Linked DNA regions of Homo sapiens: region 1 is linked to region 2. A link means that fine-mapping ties the variant in region 2 to the expression of a gene that starts in the linked region. Tissue or cell type: whole blood. Region 2 holds a variant in brackets; the other region holds the start of a gene. All regions are shown on one strand. Distances are from middle to middle.

Region 1 (8,109 bases), 61 kb after region 2:
TCCAGCAAAGAAGAAAAGTTAAAGATGCTCAACAAAGATGGAATAACCAACAGTATAATACTTCTGAGAAGCCCAGCATCCAGGAAGCCAAAGCCTAGGTAGAAGTACTGGCCTTAGAAAAAGCAGCAGCATCTCCATTGTAGCAGGATAAGAAGAGAAAAGGGAAAGTGTCAAAATAGGTTTATAGATCTGGTGGTAGAAAGTGAAAAGGTAGACAGTTCTAGACTAATGACTTCTATTTATCTATGGTGTCAAAAGAAGGTGATCTGCTGAAAGTGAGGATCTAGAGAAAGGACTCAGATTGGAGGAAAATAGTAAAACAAAAAGATTGCTCACGGGCACTGATAGTCTAGTGGAAATTAGTGGCCAAGCACTTACTTGGCAGAAGTTGCCCAGTGAGATATTTTCCAGCTGTGCTTGGAGCCTTGCACAAAGAAGGTAATCAGTCATCAATACTCAAGTTTGCCAGATGGACATGAAAAAGGGACAGAGGGTCAAGAAAACTGGGACACTGGAGAGACAGTGGAGTGACAATAGCTTCTAAGCTGGACAGACAGAAAAAGAAAACAGAAAACAGTAAAGTACAGGAAAAAGAATAAGAAGGTCTGGATGACTGGAATTGTCAATGAAAGTTAAGAGAATTAAATGAGACAAAGCATGTAAAACACTCTGCAGAGTGGCTGGAACAGTTATAAGTGCTCAAGAAGTCTTATTAATATCAAGGGTTTAACACTGAAGGTTTAGATTATTCACAAGAGAACCTAAAGATAATGACATGTAGTAATTTACAGTCAGACAGATGAGAATACAGAAGCAAAGTCATTTTAGCCGGAAGGTGAGCCCAGTTAACTGCCCAGTATCTAATTGTGAAATCAGCTTTGTAGTTCTCTCACATAACTCTCAATAAGGACTTTAACATAAGCTTTCAAGTTCCAGTTATGCTTTAATTCATTTAATGTGGAGAAACTATAAACTATGGTGGTACTCAGGAAGGTCTTAAAACATCTTCCTCCAATGTTAAGAGACTCCTGGACTTCATTAACACAAAAGAAGAGTATGGCAACAGCAATGTGCATGTGCAATAGTGACTGTGACCCAGACCTGCCTTGTAAAGCCTCTATTTTACATATCAGGTAATAACATTAATCTAAGCAAAAAGTTAAAGAAATAAATGAAAAGGTACTCAATCCAATTAAATAAGATGCTCCTATACACCCAGTTAGAATGGCTAAAGTGATAAGACTGACAACATCAAGTGATGGCAGGGATGCGGAGCAAAAACCTCTCTCACACACAACTGGCAGAAGCGTAACATGGTACAATCACTTTGGAAAACTACACGACGATATCTTTTAAAGCTGAAGGTGGTATAGCTTATGACTCAAAAATTCCTGTTTGGTATTTCCCAACACAAATATTAATACATACATATGCATACCAAAAGGCATGTACAAAGTGTACAAAAATGTTCAAAGTAGTACTAGTCTTAATAGTTCCAAACTAGAAATAACCCAAATGTTCATAATGATAGAATGGATAAATTGTGCTATATTCATTCAATGGGATACTATATACCACAAGGATGAAGTAGCGCTACACACAGCACAGATGAATCTCACAAACAATGTTGGCTTTAAGAAAACAAAACACAAGAGTTTATGCCATATGATTACATTTATATAAGTTCAAACACAGGAAAAACCCACTTTTTGCCGATGTGCTGCAGACTTTCATGAATGCACCACACACCAAAGACAGAACAAAGAGCTCCTCTTAATAACAGGGGTGCATAGTGCCCTTAGAAGATGGCATGGCATGGTATTTATCAATGGTTGCTTCTGCTCTAACTTCGATGGTTACAGAGTTAGAATAGTTGTTACTACTGTGGGGTTGGTGACTGAGAAGGGCATAAGGGGGGACCTCTGGTGTACTGGTCATGTTCTCGTCTTGTTGGTGGGATGTGCACTTTGTAATAATTGAGCTATACATTTATGATTTGTGCCCTCTTATATGTATCCCATACTTCACTGGAGAGTTTACTTAGAAACAAAAGGCTAGAAATGACAAAAACAATGTAGGAAAAGGCTTTAGAAGAAGCCGAGGCTGCTGGCTCTGCAGAATCCCCTTTTGCCTCTATGTATAGAATCGGCCACTATACTACAGAGAGATGGAATGACCCAAATCATGTTATCTAAAATAACAAAATGAAATAATGAGAGAGCAGGATTGGAACTGAGGTATGCTAATCTCACAATGTTCTCAAATTCTTGAAGGAATGTTTCTGGATGTTTACAGAGGGGTCCTTGTCATCTAGGCACTCATTATCCTGATCCTTAAAGCAATGAGATTGTAAAGGGATGTAAAAGTAGTCATAACACAAAAATATTTACTAAAGAACAAGAGCACTTATAAAGTTGGTCCTCACTCAAACATTCCTACTCTGGCTCAGACCAGCCACTGTTTCTGCCAATTCCCATCAACTGCCCTTGTCAGTCATTCTCGGTCAATTGTTTCCTGTGTTATGATGTTAAACAGGACAATACAATATAACCATAATGTAAATCAATTGCGAAGTGAAACTGCACATCTTGCAAAAGATGCATGATTCCATGAAGTTGATAAAAGTGCTATTGGAGAACTGTTTGAATCACATGCCAAACCACTGACAACAGGAGAACCTGGCAGATTAAGGTCAGTTAATCATTGTGGAGGGGACCCCTGGTTGTTCACCAGGTAACCATTTTTTCCTTCCTACTCAGTAACAGAACCCTGATTTTTCAGTAATTGTACTTCTATTGTAACGGTAAATAAGTGATGTTAATATACTCCAAAGCTAAGAAATGTGAGTCACTTTTTAAATCCAAAGAGCTAAACGGACAGTCTCAGATAATCCTCTGCTCCTCAAGTAAATATTTGCTGCTGCAATCCAGTTTCACCCTATTTAGGGATTAAGGCAATGCTTTACAATGCTATGATCCACGAATGAAAACATATATTCGAGGGAGTGGGAGGGAACCTAATGAGTCTTCAACGAGTTTAAGCCCTGGTTAACTATGTTCAACTACCATTACAGGCAGGCAATAGCTAAATGCACCAGCAATTTGAAGTCTGTGGTATTGTAGATACAAAAAGGTTTACATGAAAGGAACATGAATTTGAAAATAGATACATGAAAGTCAGTTACATAAATTAACGAATTCAGGCATTCACAGTACTTCAGCACAAAGGCCAGGCCAGGAAAGATTTAAAAGCATTCCCACAGACTGCACTGGTGCACTGTAGCAGGAGCTGGTGAACAAAGACAAAATCCCAGCAGTCAGCGTTTGCTTATAGAAACCAGAAGTTAATATCTTCATAAAAATCTTAAATTCCTCTACTGTTGCCCATATTCCCAGCAGAACCACCAGACAAAGCAAACTAGGTTTTGCAGTTACACATAACTCACATCCTGCTTTGTCCCCTTGAAACAGGATCCCAGTCAACAAAACCCAAACATTCCCACAAATCTACTTAGATGTGTATTATCTATAAATAAAGCTTACAGAAAGGAAAAAGTGACTTTCTATGCTTATCGGTGTAGATGTTATGGAATTAAAAAAAAAAAAAGCCTCTTTGTTTCACCTTCGCCAGCGTTAAAATCCGTTCTTTTCATAACCCACCTTTCGCCGATGTGCTGCAGAATTTCACGAATGCACCACACACCAAGGACAGAACAAAGAGCTCCTCTTAATAACAGAGGCGCACAGTGCCCTTAGAAGATGGCATGGTATTTATCGATGGCTGCTTCTGCTCTAAATTAGCACGAACAGGAGGACTCCTCTTCAACTAGCTCCACCGGGGAACACAGGAGGGGGCGGGGATCCTTATTTAAGAGCAGCTGATGTCAGGCCAGCAACTCTCCTCCCTTTGGGGGCTTCGGTTTGGGCTATGCCAACGGGTTTCTTCACACAAGATCTCACGGCACCTTAAAACGGCTCGCCAATGGAAGGATCCTCGCCCCACAAAGAGATAACTAGGGCAGAGCTGTTACACAACCGATACCCGACGGCGAAAGCCAGCCTGAGGAGTCCCCCAGGAGTCTGACTTGGGAGCTACATCCTCGGCAGACGAGAAGCACTTTTGCTCGAGAATTGTTTTACGCGCCCCTCTACCAACTGCGGAATCGCTCGCCTGCGAAAACGGAAGGAGGGGCGAGGACAGAGAAAGAGGGGCGCGATCCACAGGGCGCGGGGTTCCACCCCGGGAACCAGGGGCCCGAGCCCCGGACCACCTCCCACCGTCGTCCGTCACTCCCACAGAGGCGGTACCTGTTTCCGCATGTTATTCATGACGCCCATGAAACCCGCCAACAATTTAGCTTCTTCCCGAGCAGCAAGTTTCTTCTCGGTCTTCTTCTTGCTGCTCTTCTCCACCCCAGAGGCTGCCATCCTCCCTCAGCTCGGTTCACGCCCGGGGCTCGCCGGGCCGGGCGAGGGGTCGCACTCTCTGGGCACACTGGGGATTCTATCGACCAAACACGGCGATCGGCAGTGCAGCTGCAGCGCCCAGCTCTGGAACGCGCGGCAGGCGGCGGTGGCTCGGCCACTGCCGAAAGACAAGGCCGGGCGGCCCCCTTAGAAACGCTCAGGGAGCGACGCTACCAACTGGGCTGCGTCCCCGGGCAGAACCCGAGCCCTGCCCAGGAGCCTGCGCACTTCGCGCAAGGAGGCGGGGGCACTATGAGGAGAGTCAGGGGCGGGGCCTGACACGTCACAGTGGCGCGCCGTTCCGAGCAATGAGACTGCAGGCACAGGTGCGGCCGGATTCCCTGTCGCTGTCCCGCGCTGAGTGAATTTTGCCTCGGAGCTGGTCCGAGGTCGCGCCTGCTCTTTTGTGTGCCCAAGGCAGATTTCCAGGTTTCGGTTACGTGATTATCTTTTTTTTTTTTTTTTTTTTGATAATTGGGTTGTGGAACATGCAAAGGTGTCTCCCATCAGTGTAAGGCTTCATGGGACAGGGTCGGTGTTCAGTGCAGTATCTGAGCCTGGTGTATGGTAGGCGCTCAATAAATATTAAATGATGAAAGGATATTACTGCAAGTTAAAGTCATGTTACACGGAGCACAAGATTTATTTTCGTGGGATTCATAACGCAAGAGCACACAGTCCCGTTGGTGTCTCCTTGGCGTGCAATGAATGTCTGCCTAACTAGGCTGGCTTACTGTGTGTTTACAACTGAAATCAGTTGTCAGTCGGTTCTAGAAATCTTCAGTTAGGCTTCTCTAAGTGTTTTACGGGAACACGGAACTCAATCACAGCCCTCATGGAAATGTTTTTTGTAACCATATTCTTTCTACTGTATAGTAATATACAGGATTATTTGAAATTGTACATTATTTAACATTATGAAAACTTTATATCTCATTGGTTTTCCTCCTCGGTCTATATAGGACTATACAGAGACATTTTATGTAAAATAATTTACACCATTGAGGCTTTTTTTTTTTTTTTTGGAGGCAGGGTCTCGGCCCTGTCGCCCAGGCTGGGGGTGCGGTGCAGTGGCTAATCATAGCTCACTGAAGCCTCAGCACTCCTGGGCTCAAGCAATCCTCCCATCTCAGCCTCCCAAGTAGCTGAAACTACAGGCGTGCAACACCACTCTGGGCTAAGTTTTAATTTTTAAATTTTTTTGGTGGTGGTGGTGGTGGTGGTGGTGGTGGTGAAGAGGTCACACTATGTTGCCCAGGCTTGTCTCGAACTCCTGGTGTTATGCAATCCTCCCGCCTAGGCCTCCCAAAGTGCTGGGATTACAGGAATGAGCGGCCAGGCCTGGCCCACAGTATACTTTTCTTGTTGAGGACAAACCATATAGCATAATCCAGATGAAAGAGCAAGCTATATATACGCCTCAATTTTTACAAAAGAGTAAGATACTTATGTCTCTGTACTCTTTATCTTTCTTCTATTAATCTAGAGGTTCTCAGATGTGCCTCTATTTTAACTAGTTGATTTGGGGATTTCAGGTGAACCCTGGCAATAGGAATAATTTATTGTTAATAAAATTATAAATGAGAAAATTTTTCATTCACTTTATTAAATGACCCAGGACACTGAAGAAAAACGGAATAAATTTTTTTCTTTTTTTTTTAATTGAAAAGAAGTAGAAATCTGTCTTCTAACTCTAAGGCCTTGGGAGATGAAGGATCCGTGATTCAAAGGCAGAAATGTAAGTGATGAAAAAGAATGCTGTCCTGTAATAAGGCAAAAAAGAAACGAGGAACAGCATCCTTAGTCCTTGATGTTAGAACAGTCTTTTTACATATTGCTGAATATAAAACATCAAAGTTCATGGAAGAGCCATAGGATTCAGAGCTCAAAGAGGCCACAGAGATTATATAGTACAGGGATTAAGCATGAGACTTTGCCTGGATGCAAAGTCAAACATCTCAACTTTCTAGTTGTGCAACTTTGGGCAAATTGATTAACTTCTGTTATGCCTCAGTCTCCTTATCTGTGAAAGTAGAACCTACTACATGGAACTGGCGTAAGGTTTATAAAAATGCTTAGAGGGGTGCCAGCACAAGACACTTAAAATTACTTTACTGAGTTAATAATACACACATACTTCAGAGATATTTTGGGTTCTGTTCCAGACCACCACATAAAGTAAATATCGCAGTAAAGTGAATCACACAAATTTTTTGGTTTCCCAAAACATATGCAAGTTATGTTTACACTATACTGTGGTCTATTAAGTGTGCAATAATATTATGTCTGCAAAAGCAATGCACATACCTTAAAAAGTGCTTTGTTGCCAAAAAGTTGCTAATGATCATCTAAGCCTTTGCAAGTTGCAAGTTTTAAATTTATTTTTATTTTTATTTCTTTTTTTTTAAGAGATGGAGTCTTGCTGTGTTCTCCAGGATTGAGTACAGTGGCTTATTCACAGATGTGATCATACTACACTACAGCCTCAAACTCCCGGGGTCAAGCAGTCCTCCTGCTTCAGCCTCCTGAGGAGCTGGGACTACAGGCCCACATCACCATGCCCACTAGATTCACAGTCATTTTGCTTGTGGAAGGTCTTGCCTCAATGTTGATAGGTGCTGACTGATCAGGGTCAGGTTGCTGACTGATCAGAATGGTAGTTTCTGAATGTTGGGAATGGCTATGGCAATTTCTTAAAATAAGACAACAATGAAGTTTGCTGCATTGATTGACTCCCTTTCACAAAGGATTTCTCCATATCATGCAATGCTGTTTGATAGCATTTTACCCATAGTAGAACTTCTTTCAAAATTGGAGTCAATTCTCTCAAACCTTGTCTCTGCTTGGTCAACTAAGTTTATGCACTATTCCACATCCTTTGTTGTCATTTCAACAATATTTACAGAGTCTTCACCATGAATAGATTCCTTTTCAAACAACCACTTTCTTTGCTCAGCCATAAGAAGCAACTCTTCACCCATTCAAGTTTTATCATGAGATTGCAGCAATTCAGTCACATCAAATTCCACTTCTAATTCTAGTTGTTTTTCTATTTCCACCACATCTGCAGGTACTTTCTCCACAGAAATTTCAAACCTCTCAAAGTCATCCGTGAGGGTTGGAATCAACTTCCAAATTTCTGTGAATGTTGATATTTTGACCTCCTCCTAATCACAAATGTTCTTAATGGCATCTAGAATGGTGAATCTTTTCCAGAAGGTTTTCTATGTGCTTTGCCCAGTTCCATCAGAAGAATCACTGTCTGTGGTAGCTCTAGCCTTATTAAATGTATATTTTAAATAATAACACCTAAAAATCAAAATGACTCCTTGATCCATGGGCTGTAGAATAGACATTGTGTTAGCAGTCATGAAAACAAGATTAATCTCCTCATATAGCACCATTATAGCTCTTGGGTGACCACGTGCATTGTCAATGACCAGTAATATTTTGAAAGGACACCTTTTTTTTTGAGCAGTAGGTCTCAACAGTGGACTTAAAATATTCAGAAAGCTGTGTTGTAAACAGATGTGCTGCCAGCTAGGTATCGTTGTTCCATTTATAGAGCACTGGTAGAGCAGATTTAGCATAATTTGTCAGGACCCTAGGATTTTTGGAATGGTAAATGGGCACTGGCTTCAAC
Region 2 (8,109 bases):
TGGCTAACACGGTGAAACCCCGTCTCTATTAAAAATACAAAAAATTAGCCAGGCGTGGCGGCAGGCGCCTGTAGTCCCAGCTACTCAGGAGGCTGAGGCAGGAGAATGGCGTGAACCCAGGAGGCGGAGCTTGCAGTGAGCTGAGATCACGCCACTGCACTGCAGCCTGGGCGACAGAGGCAGACGCCGTCTCAAAAAACAAAAAACAATTTGATGAATTCAACTTTATAAAACATAATTAAGGCACAATGATTAACTCTGAAGTATTAACAATTCTTTTGTCTTACATTTATGTATTGTTTTAAAAATGGTTTGACAGTCACCACTCTCATTTTCAAAGTTCTCTGTTAAGGTGAGGTGGACAGCATGGCTCCTGTTTTTAGGAAAAACACACACGCTCATCCAGGTGAAGTGACCGGCATACAGCTCGGAAGTGGGACAGCAGTAAAAACTAGGTCTTCACTGCCCTGCACGTAGTGAGATTTATAGACTCAGCTATCATCATGCATTAAAACACAGTATTTGACTTGGAAAAATTCCATTTACATACCACTTTCTTCTCCAAATATAATGTTAATGATATAAAAAGACAGCATGTCTTTATGTATATCTAAATCTCCTGAAGGTTTAGAAAAAACTTTCACAAATTCCCCTTCCTCCTATAATTCACATGCAGAGTACATACTAGGTCCCCGCTATCTGCAATCTGAAGTTTAATGTTTAGAAGCGTTTTTTCGCCTGTAATCCCAGCACTTTGGGAGGCCAAGGTGGGCAGATCACAAGGTCAAGAGATGGAGGCCATCCTGGCCAACATGGTGAAACCCCGTCTCTACTGAAAATACAAAAATTAGCCCGTGTGGTGGCGTGCGCCTGTAATCCCAGCTACTCAGGAGGCTGAGGCAGGAGAATCGCTTGAACCTGGGAGGCAGAAGTTGCAGTGAGCTGAGATCGTGCCACTGCATTCCAGCATGGTGACAGAGTGAGACTCCGTCTCACAAAAAAAAAAAAAAAAAGTCATTTCTTAAAATTCTGACCGCTCAAACTGTGTCACATTGTTTCCATAGACATAATTTCTTTCTTTCTTCAGTTACTTTATTATGAGCTTCTGCTCCTCTCCATCTTTTTTAAAACTGATTTTAAAAATGTGATACATAATACATGTACATATTTTTATGGTACCTGTGATATTTTGACACATGTATACAATGTGTAATGATCAAGTCAGAGTAACTGGGATATCCAGCACCTGAAACATTTATCTTTCCTTTTGTTTCTTTTTGGGCTAGGGAAGGAACCCAGGCCTCCCATGTTGCTGCTGAGGAATATCTTTTCTTTGTGTTGGGAACATTCCAATTCTTCTCTAGCTATTTTGAAATATACAATAAATTATTGTTAACTATAGTCTCCCTACTGTACTACTGAATATTAGAACTTATCCTATCTAACTGTATTTCTGTACTTGTTAACCAACCTCTGATAACCATCATTCTACTCTCTACCTCCATGAGATCAACATTTTTAGCTCCCACATGAGTGACAACATGTGTTATTTGTGTTTCTATGGTCCATAGGCTTAGTTTTTCAGCTTCCAATTAAACACATTCTAATTATCAAACACTTAAAATGTCAAAATTGGGAAGAAATTCTTATTAAAAAAAACTTGGCTGGCTAGATAACTTTTTGTTTTTATTTTTGTTTTTGTTTTTGAGACAGAGTTTCGCTCTTGTTGCCCTGGCTGCAGTGCAATGGCACGATCTCAGCTCACTACAACCTCCACCTCCCGGGTTCAAATGATTCTCCTGCCTCAGCCTCCTGAATAGCTGGGATTACAGGCACGCGCCACCACGCCCGGCTAATTTTTTTTGGTATTTTTAGACGAGACAGAGTTTCACCATGTTGGTCAGGCTGGTCTCGAACTCCTGACCTTAGACGATCCACCAGCCTCGGCCTCCCAAAGTGCTGGGATTACAGGTATGAACCACCACACCTGGACTAGGTAACATTTTTAAAAGGAAATAATATAACATTTATTTTGAGAGTTGGATAATTATATTCACACTAGCTTTTCATTTGTGAAAATTTAAGGGCATTGAAGGGAACATAGAGAATTCAAATTTAAGCTCAATATATATAAAATGAAAGAAATGCTAGGTCTTGTAAGTTTTTAAATATTCCTGAAACTGAATATTCACCTAGTTTTAAAAAATACAGAAGCTGCAGAACTCCTTTATATTTTTACTTTGAACAAAAAAGTAAGTAAAAAATCAATATTAATTTACATTGATAGTGCCTGAATAAAGATGTAAAAATTTAGAAACCTAGAGTTTTTATGGTTATGGCTTCTCTTTTAAGAGATTTTTTAGAAATAAAAAATAATTAGCAGAATGAATCAGTTTTCCAACTAGTATGCTGTAACACTTTTTGAGCCTAGGGTTTATGGGAAGTAAGGTAGAGGTTCACATAAAAGGGAGCAAAGTTGGTAAACATCTTTAGCAAAAGACAAATTTCAAGACAACTTGCTTTTCTATTATTTGCACTGGAAAGAAGTTATTGATTATGCTTCCTTAAATCTTTTAAAAATATGTGGGAATCATAGATAAATGCACATAATTAATCATATTTTATAATTAAGCTCTTATTTTTTTATTTTTTATTTTTTTTTGAGATGGAGTCTTGCTCTGTCACCCAGGCCGGAGTGCTGTGGCACAATCTTGGCTCACTGCAACCTCCGCCTCCCAGGTTCAAGCAATTTTCCTGCTTCAGCCTCCCCAGTAGTGGATTACAGGCACGCGCCACAACACCCAGCTAGTTTTTGTATTTTTAGTAGAGACGGGATTTTGCCATGTTGGCCAGGCTGATCTCATACTCCTGACCTCAAGTGATCTGCCTGCCTCAGCCTCCCAAAGTGCTGGAATTATAGGCATGAGCCACCATGCCTGGCATCTTATTTCTTAATTTTAAAAAAAGCAGTAGCTGGAGTTGAAGACTTCCATGTTTTGTAGTTTGGCAATATTTCCTAAATATAAAACTTTAAGCACGAGAGTTTTGATGCAACTCTGGCATAGCATTTTAGTGAACGTATTCACCCAGTAACTTGTTCTAGTAAGGGAAGAACGATGGGCAATCCAGCCATATGATCAAGTGACTTTTCTTATCAAAGCTCTTTGGATGTTTCCATAAAAGGTACGACTAGGGTATCATCTGTTTTATGTCCTCATCAGCTTTAATGTCACTACTCACAACCCGTGCCCTCATGCCCTCTCCATTATTCAATGATTAGCACATTTCCTTTGGCTACATTGAATGTGTTCCATCATTAACTACAAGGTCAGAAAAACTGGCTAACCAGTTATTTCTTTAGCATTTTACCTTTTTGACACACTTTGCCTTTTTAAAAGCAGTTGATTTAAGAATAATTTTATTTAATAAACATGAATCTAAATGTACTTAGGAAGTTTACACCTAAAAAGAACTAGGGAGGCATGATTTATTAATG[C/T]CATGAGCCAATATCTAATATTTCTACTTAAGGATAAATTTATTGCTGGTCATAAACTCCCCCCTCCTCCTCTACATTTCCTGACCGCTCAAACAAAAACATTTTATGAGTTGACGAATCAATCAGATGTGTCTCATTCATAGGCATTTATTGCACGCAGAACCAGAAAGAAAGAGGTTCCCATGGGGTGTAAGTTCAAGCCATTTCTGGTGTAAGGGAAAGGTCCAGGTCATAAATATGCCACTGACCCTAGCACACTCAAAAGTTTATATACACTCTTCACTCAAGGACAAAATTCTTCTGTTGGGTTCCTCTGGTCTTTTGACATCTCCTACAGAGCTTATAGAATACAGTTAACTGTAAAATAAATTTTAAATAGATACATACGTTTCTGTGGCAGGATCATAAACTTCACAGGAATTAAGCACTCTCCCAGAAACATTGTTTCCTAAACTTCCACCACAAACATAGATTAGGCCATTGGCTTCCACCATCCCATGGCTGCAGCGCTGGGTCAGCATGCTGGGCTTTGTGTGCCAGCTTTCAGTTCTCGTATCATAGCACTCAAATAAATACAGAGCTGAGTTTCCTGTAAAAGAAAAAGGCCCCATCATGCTTAACTTTAGTGTGTGCGGGGGTTTGGAAAGAACTGACTGTAGATCTTATTAGTTAAGGAAGGAAGAATTTAGGGTCATACGGCCATTTTCATACTCAATCAACAACAACAAAGTGTAGGAATAGTTTAAGAAAACGCTAATAATCCTGTTTGTATAGACCCTGGAAAACATCCTTAAAAGGATCTGTTGGAAATACTTATTTATTGGTAATTAAACTTTAGAAAAATAAATTTGATTTCAAAAGAAAAATTAAATAAGAAGCCTTATATATGTCTTCAAGCCCCATTATGCATGACGGGAATTATCCATACTTCAAATGTTTATATAAAGTGGAAAAGCATAATAGTTCCTTACAGATGGTAGACCCATACCTTAAAATATGAAAACTACTATCTGATCATATTCTTATTTAATATTCTGGAATAGCTACAGCACCATTAACAAAATTATATTTCCTAACTATTCTCAGTTAGTGTGGTATATCCTGAAATCACACTGGTCCCTGCTTGAGTATATTCTCAAAATATTGATGTATATTTCTGATGTATTTTGATTACACAATTTAAAGGCAAAACATACATTCATCATGTTTTGAAACTTCTACACACTGTAGGAGTTCAATAAAAAATTTTAGAAATGATACTATTAAAGTTTAAGTGCTTTTTTTTTTCCTTCCCAAGGACAAAAAATTTTAGAAGTTACCAAACTATTTCTCATCTCCCACCATTCTGGGCTAATATCAAATGATTTAAAAACGACAACACCTTTATAATTCTGCGTTGCAACTAAGGTCTGTGAAAAGTAAAGATCAGAAAATAACAACTAGAAGAAGCAATGGTCATGACCAAAAATAACTTATTTTTAACTTTTTAAACATTCCTGATTTGGTAGGTTCAGTGGGTGGACACTATAGGAAAATATATAGTATATAGTAGATTAAAAAAAAACTACTACTTAAGCTAAAAACACACTTAGCAAAGGCTGAAGAAATGAAGTTATCTGCAGTACCACAGAACAGTTACCGTCTATCATCTTTAGGATTTATTGTATTTGAAATATTCTACATTATAACAGTCTGTGAAGAATGCTTTTAAAGAGAGGAAATGGTTACATTTAGGAAATAGTGATTTTTCTTGTATTCATTTGACATATAGTTGAGGGTAAAAACATAAGTATGCAGACCAAAAGTATAACCATTTACGGTCTCCCTAGTTTTCTTTATTAGCCCATTATTTAAGCTAAAGAAATTACTTGAAAATGAAAGCATACAAAAGCTATTATGTATCTAGCCTGCACCTATTCATTTAGAAAAATTATTCATTTAGAAAAAGAGCACTACTGGACACTAACACACTATCCAATAAGGTTTTTATATCCACACCCACATCCCATTCTGCTCAATAAGCATAAATACCACTACAGTCATTAAAAACTTAAAGAATAAAACAAATGAAAAAGAGCATTCTTTTTTCTAATAAAAAGAAAGCAAATATAATACAAATTTTAAAAGCCTGAATATAGTAACGAGTTCTTAAAGAGTCTATAAGTTGAACTCTGAAATCTTTAAAACAAATAATATTATGCAGCCCAAATAATTTAGAACTATAATTCAGATAATGTCAACTAATGCTTCATTATGATAAAAAAAATGGGCCATTAATCTAGGAAGCTAAAGTTCTGTAATTTAATGGTTTGTAAAGCAACGACATAAACCTTCAGGGAGATGAGCTCTAAAATGTGACAAACACATATTTAAATTACCAAGAAAGTATCTGGACAAATAATACCAGCTGTTTATTTAAATATGAAAGCCAAGATACTTGGCTTTAAAGCATATGCCCCAAACCAAAATACTTAAGAAGTCCTTACCTACTTCTGAACCTCCAGATGTATAAATTTTGCCTTCTGCAGCACATGCAGCAAGGCTGTCTCGAGGTGTCGGAGGACCCAGTTTCGAATACCAGCTATCCTTCACTACATTATAGCAGTCCATTCGCTTTATTGGGAAAAGCTGAGAGCCTCCCAAAATGTATACTACATTGTCCCAAAACACGCATGCTGCATCTCTTCGTTTTTCAAAGGGGCAGCGGATGTCTGTCCAGCTATAATCCTGTAGCAGAAAAGGATGGGAAGCTTTCAGTAAGGAAAAAAATATAACTGAAAAGGACAATGCAAAGATACAGTCAAAAAACATATAAGAATATGTTAATTTATTAGACTACACATACAAATGTTTGGCTTGAGACTATTACCAATTTAATCTTGTGTGGTTTCTGCAGAATGTTGATTAGATGGGGCGGAGGGCAAAAGGCAGGCACATGACTGCTTTGGGTCCTTTCTGGCTCTAAAATAAACTTAAATATATTTGGATATACCATCACCACCCTGTCTTCTATTCCTTCTGTTATTGAAGACAATACAAGAAGATTCTAAAATAAGTTGTTTTATTTTTTAAAAAAGCTTTTTCAAATGTAAAGGTCTCCATCCCTTCCCTGCCAGATATATAGTGTGATATAAGTAATCAATGGATAATATGAAGCTCAAATTGCCATTATCCTACTGATAGTCTAAAGCCAGAAGGTATTTTGTGGACTTCTTTATTAATTTTCTATATTGAGTTGAGCCAATGTAGTCAGCTGGACTTTAAAACTGTTGATGTTTATAAGGAAATACTTGAGTAATCTCTTCTAAGTACTCTGGATACTCACTTTTCACCCCAATGATTAGAAATACACACCTATCAGTACTTGACAGTAAGGGCTGTTCACAGCATCTGTTTCTTCACTATGTTTGATAGCATCGAAGAATGCTTGTGCCGCCCTTCCATGTATGTGCATGGGGGGATGCCCCTAAAGTTATAGTATCTTGGACCCTCTCTTTTTTTGAGATAGGAAGCTACAGCGTTCCTGCTATTTTCTGAAAATAATCAGGGTCAGATAGGAATTCATACCATTCCCAATCTCACCAAGGAAAGCACTATGTGTGATTATTGAGTTTCCTTCGAGAAAATCTGACTGATAACCTATGATCGTATCCAGTGTTTCAGGCATTCATTGGATTAAAGTATCACAGAACATCAGGAATGGTCTCTTAGGAAAGGAAGAGCCCCTAATGTAGAATACTTTGACTCCTGACAAAGATGAACATTTTGCTTTTTAGGTGACCAGGAAAATAGAGCCTTAATAGCTTAGGATGTTATTCTCTAATTAATATCCCCGTAGGTTACTCAGTGGTGGGCACACAAAACAATGTGATAAACATAACATGTTCGTGAAACTTCAATTCCACTCAATAAACACTTGAAAAACTGGGGGAAAATATTTTCACTTGTTCTCTTAGAGAAACTGTATACCACAGAATGAAATAAAGAGATAAAATAATGATCATATTGTACAGGGAACAATCCCTCAAAGATAAACTAAATCATTCTCTTAAATGTTCTTCATATCTACTCATAATACCTATCTAATCAGGTTTATGTAGCAGAGAATTACAATTTCATTAACTGCATTAACTCAGTGAATCTCAAATCTTGTCACTCTTACCCCTAATTTATTTGACATTTATTACTTGAGAGCTATATGGGAATTTTTTTTTTTTTTTGCTGATTATAGTACCTAGATACTGTATGTAGTTGGCGGGGGGTGGGGTGGGGAAGAATAGATGGGAAGTCAGTCTTGTCAGCTCAGTGGCTATGACTGTTGGGCATTACCCTAGTGATGAAACTAGTTCCAACCTGGGCTTGCAGGTGAAGGCAGTGCTATTTATTGCTCCCTGCAATAGGGAAATCTACAGGGAAATCTAGAGGAATATGCAGTTCTCATGTTAGCAAGAAGATGGACAAATAACAGTAGAGTCACAGATGGGACGGTATATGTGTGTGGGCAGGGTCAGGGAGCTGTTACCCTAAAAATATGATTTAATTCACTTAAGTTTTACTGAGTATCTATTCCATGCAAGTTCTTATACTTAGGTGCTGAGATGTGAAATGCGGAA

Evidence for each region. PIP is the estimated chance that this variant, and not a neighbour inherited with it, causes the effect.
Region 1: KLHL7-DT starts here. The variant in region 2 is fine-mapped to the expression of KLHL7-DT in whole blood (TOPMed, PIP 0.91).

The regions. Positions count from the first base shown.
Region 1 is chr7:23,102,345-23,110,453 of GRCh38, reverse strand. It overlaps KLHL7-DT (KLHL7 divergent transcript), which reads left to right and starts at 4,751. Exons shown (of 3, transcript NR_046220.1): 1 at 4,751-4,895; 2 at 6,137-6,204; 3 at 6,876-8,109. It overlaps KLHL7 (kelch like family member 7), which reads right to left and starts at 4,669. Exons shown (of 11, transcript NM_001031710.3): 1 at 4,308-4,669. The coding sequence starts at 4,427. RefSeq lists enhancers at 3,723-3,802, 3,508-4,494, 4,283-4,562, 4,683-4,872, 4,495-5,481.
Region 2 is chr7:23,163,812-23,171,920 of GRCh38, reverse strand. It overlaps KLHL7 (kelch like family member 7), which reads right to left. Exons shown (of 11, transcript NM_001031710.3): 8 at 5,983-6,223; 9 at 3,884-4,085. Among named protein-coding and RNA genes, the nearest start is that of NUP42, 14 kb to the left of the region's middle. The variant C/T (reference allele first, on the strand shown) is at 3,497.